Linked DNA regions of Homo sapiens: all the other regions are linked to region 2. The links come from fine-mapping of genetic effects on plasma protein levels. A gene starts in region 2. Each other region holds a variant in brackets. All regions are shown on one strand. Distances are between the middles of the regions.

The links. PIP is the posterior inclusion probability: the model's chance that the variant is causal. Protein levels are from the aptamer-based SomaScan assay of Sun 2018.
Region 1: its variant is fine-mapped to the plasma level of the KLK14 protein (Sun 2018, PIP 0.95).
Region 3: its variant is fine-mapped to the plasma level of the KLK14 protein (Sun 2018, PIP 0.95).

What each region holds. Positions count from the first base shown.
Region 1 is chr19:51,070,188-51,072,948 of GRCh38, forward strand. No RefSeq gene overlaps it. Among named protein-coding and RNA genes, the nearest start is that of KLK13, 6.5 kb to the left of the region's middle. The variant A/ATTTTTTTTTTT (reference allele first, on the strand shown) is at 1,410.
Region 2 is chr19:51,081,262-51,084,022 of GRCh38, forward strand. It overlaps KLK14 (kallikrein related peptidase 14), which reads right to left and starts at 1,626. Exons shown (of 6, transcript NM_001369775.2): 1 at 1,461-1,626; 2 at 1,314-1,375; 3 at 271-442. The coding sequence starts at 1,353.
Region 3 is chr19:51,091,901-51,094,627 of GRCh38, forward strand. No RefSeq gene overlaps it. Among named protein-coding and RNA genes, the nearest start is that of KLK14, 10 kb to the left of the region's middle. The variant C/T (reference allele first, on the strand shown) is at 1,317.

The sequences.
Region 1 (2,761 bases), 11 kb before region 2:
TTTTGTGCCTGAAACCCTCTTCCCCCAGATGTCTGCATGGTCCCCTGTATTCTTGCCATCTTCTTCATGAAGGCCCTCTTGACCACTGTTCTTGGGAGTCTCCAGGACAGTTTCAGTGATTCACTAGAAGGACTCATAAAACTCAGAAAAGTTGTTATAGTTTTGGTTTCTTACAGTGAAAGGACACAGATTAAAATGAGCAAAGAAAAAAGGTGCATCGGGCAGAGTCTGGGAGAGACCAGGCATGAGCCTCCACCTGTCTTCTCCCAGTGGAGTTTGTGGACAGTGCATAATTCCCCCAGCAATAATGTATGACAACACGCTGGAGCATCGCCAGCCAGGGAAGCTCACCCAAGCCTTGATGTCCAGGGTTTATATTGGGGGTTAGTCATATCGACATGACTGCCTGTTTGTGTGGCTGACCTTAGCTCCAGATCCTCTAGAGGTCAAATTGATACAACATGTCCCTAGGTCCCCACCATAAGTCACATTGTTATAGATTATCTGGCATGGCTCAAGCCCCAGAGAGACAAAGACACTGTTACTTAGCAAGATATTCCAAGAGCATAGAGGTTATCTCCCAGAAGCCAGGCAAGGGCCAAAAGTTTCACTGTAGTGTGCAGGGTTTGGACAGTCCAAGCCTGCTGGGTTGTACAACCACCCAACATAAAATTGCAACTCTCCTCTGACATTCTCTATCCTGTTACTCTGCTTTATTTTCTTCTATGGCATTTATTCCCATCTGTCAGGCGTAATGTTTTACTTATTCATTTGTTTCTGTCTGCCTCCCCTCTAGAATGTGAACTCCCTGAGGAAAGAATTGTTCAAATATTTTGCTCCTAGAACAATACCTGGTACACAATCAGATTTAATGAATATTTGCTGAATAAATAAATGAACTATGGGCATTAAATATTTACTGAATGAATAAATATGTGTTACAGGCTGAGAAAATGGGGGTTGTGACCAACTCAGTTTACCACTCGAGGCTATATGAGCAAACAGAAAACTGTTCTCATGAAAGCAGGATGTTGGAAAACTGACAACTGCATCTGCCACCAGAAAAGGTGCTGAGGGCAGTCACGCCTCAAGCACAGTGTTCCTTGTGATTATCCGAAAGAACATCTGAAGCCTGTTGTACAAAGAAAACAATTATATGTACCTGTGATTAATCAAGCAGCTGATCAACCGTTACCTCTCCCTCCCTGCTCTTTCTACCTAATATAAATGAAGGGCTGTAGAAGCTCAAGGCTGCCTTTGCTCACCAGAAGCAAGGAGCTCCCTGACACATTCTTTCAAAACAGATCTCTTGTCTTTATTTCTGCATTCGTCCCCCTTCATTCACTTCCGTAGGAACCGTCAGTGACAAATATGGATATTGTTGAAGGTGTGGAGAGGGAAGAAACCTA[A/ATTTTTTTTTTT]TTTTTTTTTTTTTTGAGATGGAGTCTCTCTCTGTCACCCAGGCTGGAGTGCAGTGGCACGATCTCGGCTCACTGCAACCTCAGCCTCCCGGGTTCAAGCAATTCTCCTGCCTCAGCCTCCTGAGTAGCTGGGACTACAGGCACCCACCACCACACCCGGCTAATTTTTTTGTATTTTTAGTAGAGACGGGGTTTCACCGTGTTAGCCAGGATGGTCTCGGTCTCCTGACCTCATGATCTGCCCGCCTTGGCCTCCCAAAGTGCTGGGATTACAGGCGTGAGCCACCGCACCTGGTCGAACCCTTCTTTGTTAGACAAAAACTTGCCAGTATTCGGTGAAATTGATTAAGAATAGGCCTTTAGGCCCCTTGGTCCCACTCCTGTGTGAATGGTCAAGAGGAGTCTTGTATAGATACATAAGTGGCACGCTCAAAGTGAAGGGAACCTAGGTGTCCATCACTGAAGGACTGGGTTACTAAACATGGTGGATGTGTACTATGCAGCGGCGCTTCTCAAATCCTAACATGCACTGAGTGCCCTGGCAATCTTGTTATATATAACGCAGATTCCGATTCAGTTGGTCTGGGTGAGATCTAAGACTCCAGTTCTAATAAGTGATTCAGAATTGCTATTTTCTGCACCACGCTATGTGAAGCAAGGGCAAAAACCAGAGTAGTGCTGTTCAATGGGACTTCCAGTGATGAGATGCAAATAATTCTATCTATAATATATCCGTGCTGTCAATATGGCAGCCGCTAGCCACGTACGGTTATTGAAATGTTGTGAGTATGACTAAGGAATGGAATTTTAAGGTGCATCTAATTTTAATTAATTTTAATCAAAAATTAAATGGCCACACCAGTTGTGGCTAACGGCTACCATATTGGACAACATATGTCTAGAAGACTCTGGGGCAGTTAGAAGCAGTGAACTAGATGAGCAAATAGTGATGCAGATAGATTGTTACAAGATGATTTGACGAAATCAGATGACGTATTTAATAATACAACCTGACCCCTCACCTACACCTACCTTCCTTCACACACTATTTAATTGAATGTAAAATACTGTTGATTATATTGCACTTTATTTTGTAGACCACTCAGAAAGAAAAAGAAGTTGCCAATTAAATTATGAGGTGTAAGACATCATGCTGAATTAAGATGTAAGATGCTTCCTAATTTCAGAGATGTGAAAAATATGAAAAGAATGTGTCTTTAAATCAATAAAATATAATGTTCAACCACCATAGCTGGAACTTTGAGTTGCAAATAAAATTAAAGTAGTCTTTAAACTATTTTTATTTAGCTTTATAGAAGGATGCAGGTTGAGAATTATAGCATGAGTTATAT
Region 2 (2,761 bases):
CTGGAAGAATCACTGGATCAGATGTTCGGTTCTCAGCAGGTCCATGGGTTCCAAGCTGCCCATCTGCTTTCAGAACCTATGCTGAGTTCGAGATTTATGGAGGAGCCCACATCCCGAGCTGTGTTTTTGTTCCAGGCTCTTCTCTAGACCTCAAACCAGGAGCCAGCCACTACATTGGGTTCTATACAGAGATCCAGGTTCTCAGCTCAGCTCTAGGGCTTTAGACTCTGGAATTCACTAGGTACAGGGACAGGGGAGGGGGTCACTTACGGGCGGCCGCAGTGAGCAGCAGTGATGACCCACTGGCCTGAAAGCAGGGCGCCTCCGCAGAGGAAGCGGCGCCTGGGACCCGCCAGCAGGGCCGCCTGCCACGGCTGGGAGCTCCGGGTGCACGTATGGCCACCAATTATCTTGTTCTCATCCTCTTGGCTCTGTGTCATGGCTAGGAGTGGACAGGATTGGGTGGGGAAAGTAGATGAGCAAACACTCTCCACTCCACAAGTTTGTAGGATTCCAAAACTGACAAATCCCCTTCCTTTTGGTCTAACCCCTAAACTGCCCGCCTCTATCTGTCCCACCCAGGGTGAGACATGCCCAATATTGACCCCGTTATTGCCCCAGCACGGAGAGCTTTCTGACTCACCTCCCAAGTCACCTCCGTAGCATCTCTTATTTTGTGCCGTGGCCACCTTATCCAGGGCCTTGCTACATCTACGACCCTTAGCTCTATGCTCCCATAATTTCTGTGATCACTTCTCGAAATATGCCACATTTCCCCCCAATGAGTCCTTCCCCAACACATTCAAGGACCTCCCTGTCTCCTCCCCAACGTTCCCACTCAGTGGGACCCCAAGGATCCGCCATCTCTTGCCCCACACTTGCCCCCATCCACCTCACACACCCATGCCACGATCCCGCCACCCCATGCCACGATCCCGCCATCCCATCATCCTTCTCCACCTTCCCTCTGACAACAAAACATCTTTCTGACATTGTTTCTTTCCTAACACAGTCAGGTAGAGCCCCGTGATCTTTCTGCTATGACCCACTCAGGACCTAATAGTTCCCTAAGATTCCTTATGTATTTTGCACCAGACCTTATAAACACCTCTCTCCCCGGCCCCACAATTCCCTAGCACCTCCACAACTAGGAATTTAGGCCTCCAGCACGTTCCCCCACCATGACCCCCAAACCACTCCCTGCTCTTTCTTATGAGGTCACCATGAGCATCCAGGGGCCCCAAGGACCCATCCCCATCTCTTCTCAGAGTCTCCAGGGGACCCCCTTGTGTCATACCCAACCGTTCTCTTACCTATAGCCAGGACTTGAAGTGCTGTCAGCAGGAGGAACATTTTAGGGGCTGAGGGCCAGGTCCTGTCAAATGCAGAGAAAAAGTGAGAGAGAAGGAACCTTCAACAGAACCGGGGGCTGAGAGGCAGAGACAGCAAGGGGCACTTACCCAGAGCCCAAGACCCTCAGGGACATGAAGACACAGCAGAGAGGTAGGGACCAGAGACGAGGGGGGCGGGGCCTGCAGGCTCTGCGGGCGGCAGGTGGGAGGATGTGGAGCAGGGCACAGGTCCCTCCTTGATGTCTTGATGAAGGAAGGAGGGGAGGTGTCTCTCTTCCTAGTCACACTGGCAAAGCCTTTTATCCCTGGTAAGGACAGCTGGCCCTGCCCCCACCTCCCGCCGCCCTGCTTCTGACATTTTTTTTTTTTTATTGCCTAGTTCCCATTCCAGGACTCCCTGATCCCATCCCCTCCCTCCCCTGTCTGGCCAAAAAAGCAGCCACAATTGTTCATGAGAACCCGCCCAGGGAAGATGCTATAATCTAGAAGGAATCCTGGGAGGGGACCCCAGGGCAGGGTGGGCAGGGGAGGGTTCCCAGTTGCTGGAGGTGGTGGATCTAGTGGTGGAGTCAGGAAACCAGGGTGGGGAGTGTCAGAGGAAAGGGCACGAAGGGGCTGAGAGAGGGAGGAAGAGATGGACTGAGAGAGGGAGTCACGGGAGGAGGGAGAGAGGGAGAGAGAGAGAGAGAGAGAGAGAGACAGAGAGAGATGGAGAGAGAGAAAGACAGAGAGACACACAGACAGAGAGAGACAGAGACAGGGTGACGGGGGGGAGAGAGAGAGAGAGATGGAGAGAGAGACAGAGAGAGAGCCAGACAGAGAGACACAGAGAGAGAGAGAGAAAGAGAGAGACAGAGACAGAGTGACAGAGAGGGGGAGAGCAAGAGACAGAGAGAGACTGGGAAAATGAATGAGAAGATATGACAGTGGAGAGAGAGGAGTCCAGGAATACGAGCACAGAGGCAGGTGTGCTCATGAGAGAAGGAACTGAGGAGAGAGCTGGAGAAACCGGTGGAAGTTGGATGTGACAGGGAACAGAAGAGGCAGACGGTGGGAAAAAAACAAGACAGAGGAAGAGGGAGACACAGAGACGCAGGGAGAGAGGGGTGTGGAGAAGTGGAGATAGAAAAGCAAAAGACGGAGGGAAGAAGGTGGAGATAGAATGGAAACAGACACACAGAAAGAGAAAACAGTGGAGAGAGAGGAGAGAGGCCGAGACGCCCCCACCATGCGGCACTCACCACAAACACACACAGAACAACAGCGATGATGATGAAGGCAGTGCGGGCATGAGACGTGGAAGAGAACGGGACATGGTGGGAGAAAGAGGATGGGACAGGCAGGCCGATGGCAGAGGGGAGACGGGAAGGATGGGCACCTACAGGGGATGGGGACAATGACAGAGGAGA
Region 3 (2,727 bases), 11 kb after region 2:
CCCCTCCCATTTATTTCTGTTTAAGCTCCACGGTGTACCCCAACCTTCCCCCTGTGTCTCCTCTAAGTTAGTATCCTCTCCCCAGGTGCTTGGGTCAAAGACGCTTGGGAGCGTCTCTGATTCCTCCCTCGCTCTCACCTCCCATTTTGGCAGTTCCTGTCACTTAGCTCCAAAGTACACAGTAAAGAATCCACCCACTTGTCTCCTCTCAGTCGCCCTCTTCCAAGTCACCCTTATCTCCCACCTACACAGGTGCAAGAGCATCCAAACTGGTCTCGCTGCTTCCAGCCTCGACCCCCAACCCCTCCCTCCCTCGCCCTGCTAAGTCCATTCTCTACTCAGCAGCCAACGTCTTCTTAAAACAATATCATGTTAAAACCTGCTTAAAACCCATCTGTGAGTGCCCACTGCAATTATAATAAAACGCAAATGCCTCCAAGGCACTTGGTGTCTGGCTTCTGTCCATCCTTCCAACCTCATCACTGCATTGTGTACTGTGCCTCTGCCCCCTGGAACTTCTTCCATCTTCTCAACATTGGGAGGCGCCTTCCCAACTTAGAGGCTTGGCCTTTGCTGTTCCCTCTGCCTGGGACATGCTTCCCACCACTCTGCCTGTGATCTTCCTTCAGATTTCAGCTTAAAGGTCATCTCCTGACCACCTTCTCCAGAGCTGGCATTCCCTTCCAGTTTCCATCTCAGCTTCTTGTGGGTTTCCTTCCTACACCTTATCTCAATCTGTAATTGCTCTATCGGTTTGCTTCCTTGTTTATTATTATTGCTGGTTTTCTTCCTCTCTATGGTGTTTATTACTGTCGGATGTCTCTCATGTTTTATTTATTTACTTTCTTACTCTTACGTCTACTCTGTCTCCCACGACTTGAATGGCAACCCTGACAGTGCAGGGATTTTCACTGTCTTTATCTGCCTCTATGCCCTGGCACATAGGAGGTGTTCAGTAAACCTTTGTGGAAGGAAGAGGCATCTCTTATTAGAACTGAGGCTTCACGAGGGCAGGGACCTTGTCTATCTTGTTGCTGAATCCCTGTTGCCACGTCTGCCACCCGGCACGTGGCAGGGGCTCTATAACAGGCTGAAGGAGGAAGATCATCTCAGAGCCTGTTTAGAATCTCTGCTTTTCTCCAGAATCTCTGCACTCAATGTCTCCACCTCCTCAGACCTGACAGCGATCTCCAATGACCCAGCCCCAGGAGAGCACACAGGTGGAAGATGGGGAAGCCGGTCTTTCTGAGACTGGGCTCCAAATCCCTGCAGTGGGGAGAATGCTTCTGACCTGATGGGATGAGACGCTGGCGTTT[C/T]GCCCCACTGCCACCTTTAGTTGTGTTTATGTAGAGGCTGTGTTTGCCAAGGCCACAGGCCACAGCAAAAGTCCCTTTGTCCCCATGAAGACTGGGGCCTCCTGTTTAGCTAAAGGAGCGTCTGTGTTCACTTGGGCCTCCAGCCTCAGCAGCTCCCTGCCCCTGCCCTCCATATTTACCAAGCCTTCCTCCTCCAGCAAAAGAATTTCCCGGGTTTACCATGGCCACCGGCATATGTGGCGAACATCTTTTTTGTTTGTTTTTGTTCAGTCTGCCTGGAAGAAATGTCTCTTGGATTTACACTGCCTTTGAGAACACGTAGGGCTCTTCGCCCTTAGGAAACACACCCTCAGCATTGAATAGGGTTCCCAGCTCTTGGTGAGGACTTCTTAAATGGCCCTCACATCCATTCTCACCATCCTGACACCCTCGCCACTGCCCCAGTTTTGGCTACCAAATCCATTCCCAGACCTTTGTCCCAGCCCTCTCCCTGGCCTCCTGGCTGAGTCTTCCCTACTCCAGTCCTTCCTGGACACGGCCCCAGAGGGATCTTTCTGACACCCAGAGCCGGCCCTGTCTGCTCTCGCCCTCCCTAAGTGCCCCATCCCGGCCAGAAGAATTCCAGTGCTTTATGGAGGGCTGGCCACCCCCTCCACCATCCTGCACAGGGAGGAGCGGCAAAGCCTCGCAGGGACTTGGGGCTCCCATGCCTGCAGGCCTCTGTGCCTGCCATTCTCTCTGCCTTGCACATTTGTCCCCATCTCGCCCTTTCCTGTGCTCATTCTTACTCATCTCCAGCTCCCGGTTTACACATTACCTCTTTCAGGAAGCGTTCCATGACGCACCGCACTGAGTTAGAAGCCCCACCTCAGGCCTCCCCTGTGTCCCTCCTAAGCCCCACGGTGGCACATATCCCTCCGGATCTTGACTTGCCAGTATCCCTGCCCGCCTCCGCTGGCAGACAGGGAGCCCATTGAGGGCAGGGACTGGGGCTGACTCAGCTGCATTGCCCCACCGCCCTGCGCAGGGCCCGCCAGCTCCAAGGAGGCGTCAGGAAATGTTTGCTGCATGAATAAAGGGGTGATCAGTATCCCTCCTTTACTCAAATATCCTCCATGGCTTCTGCAGTGCTTAGAAACAAAGCCAAGCCAAAGTCGCTTCTCCCTCTCACCTCTCTCCTCCACCTGCCCCCTCTCCTTTTTCCCTCAATCTCAGAGTCTGCACTTGCTGTTTCCTGCCAGGAACACTTTCCCAGAGACCCTCCACCCCTGTGCTCTCTGCCTCACCCTGCACCTTTCCCTGAATATCTCCTCCTTGAAGCCTCCCCGTCCCTCCTACTTAAATAGAAGCGATTATCACGATCCAACATACCATATATTTGACTTATTTTTCTCGTTTTTTTTTTTTTTTT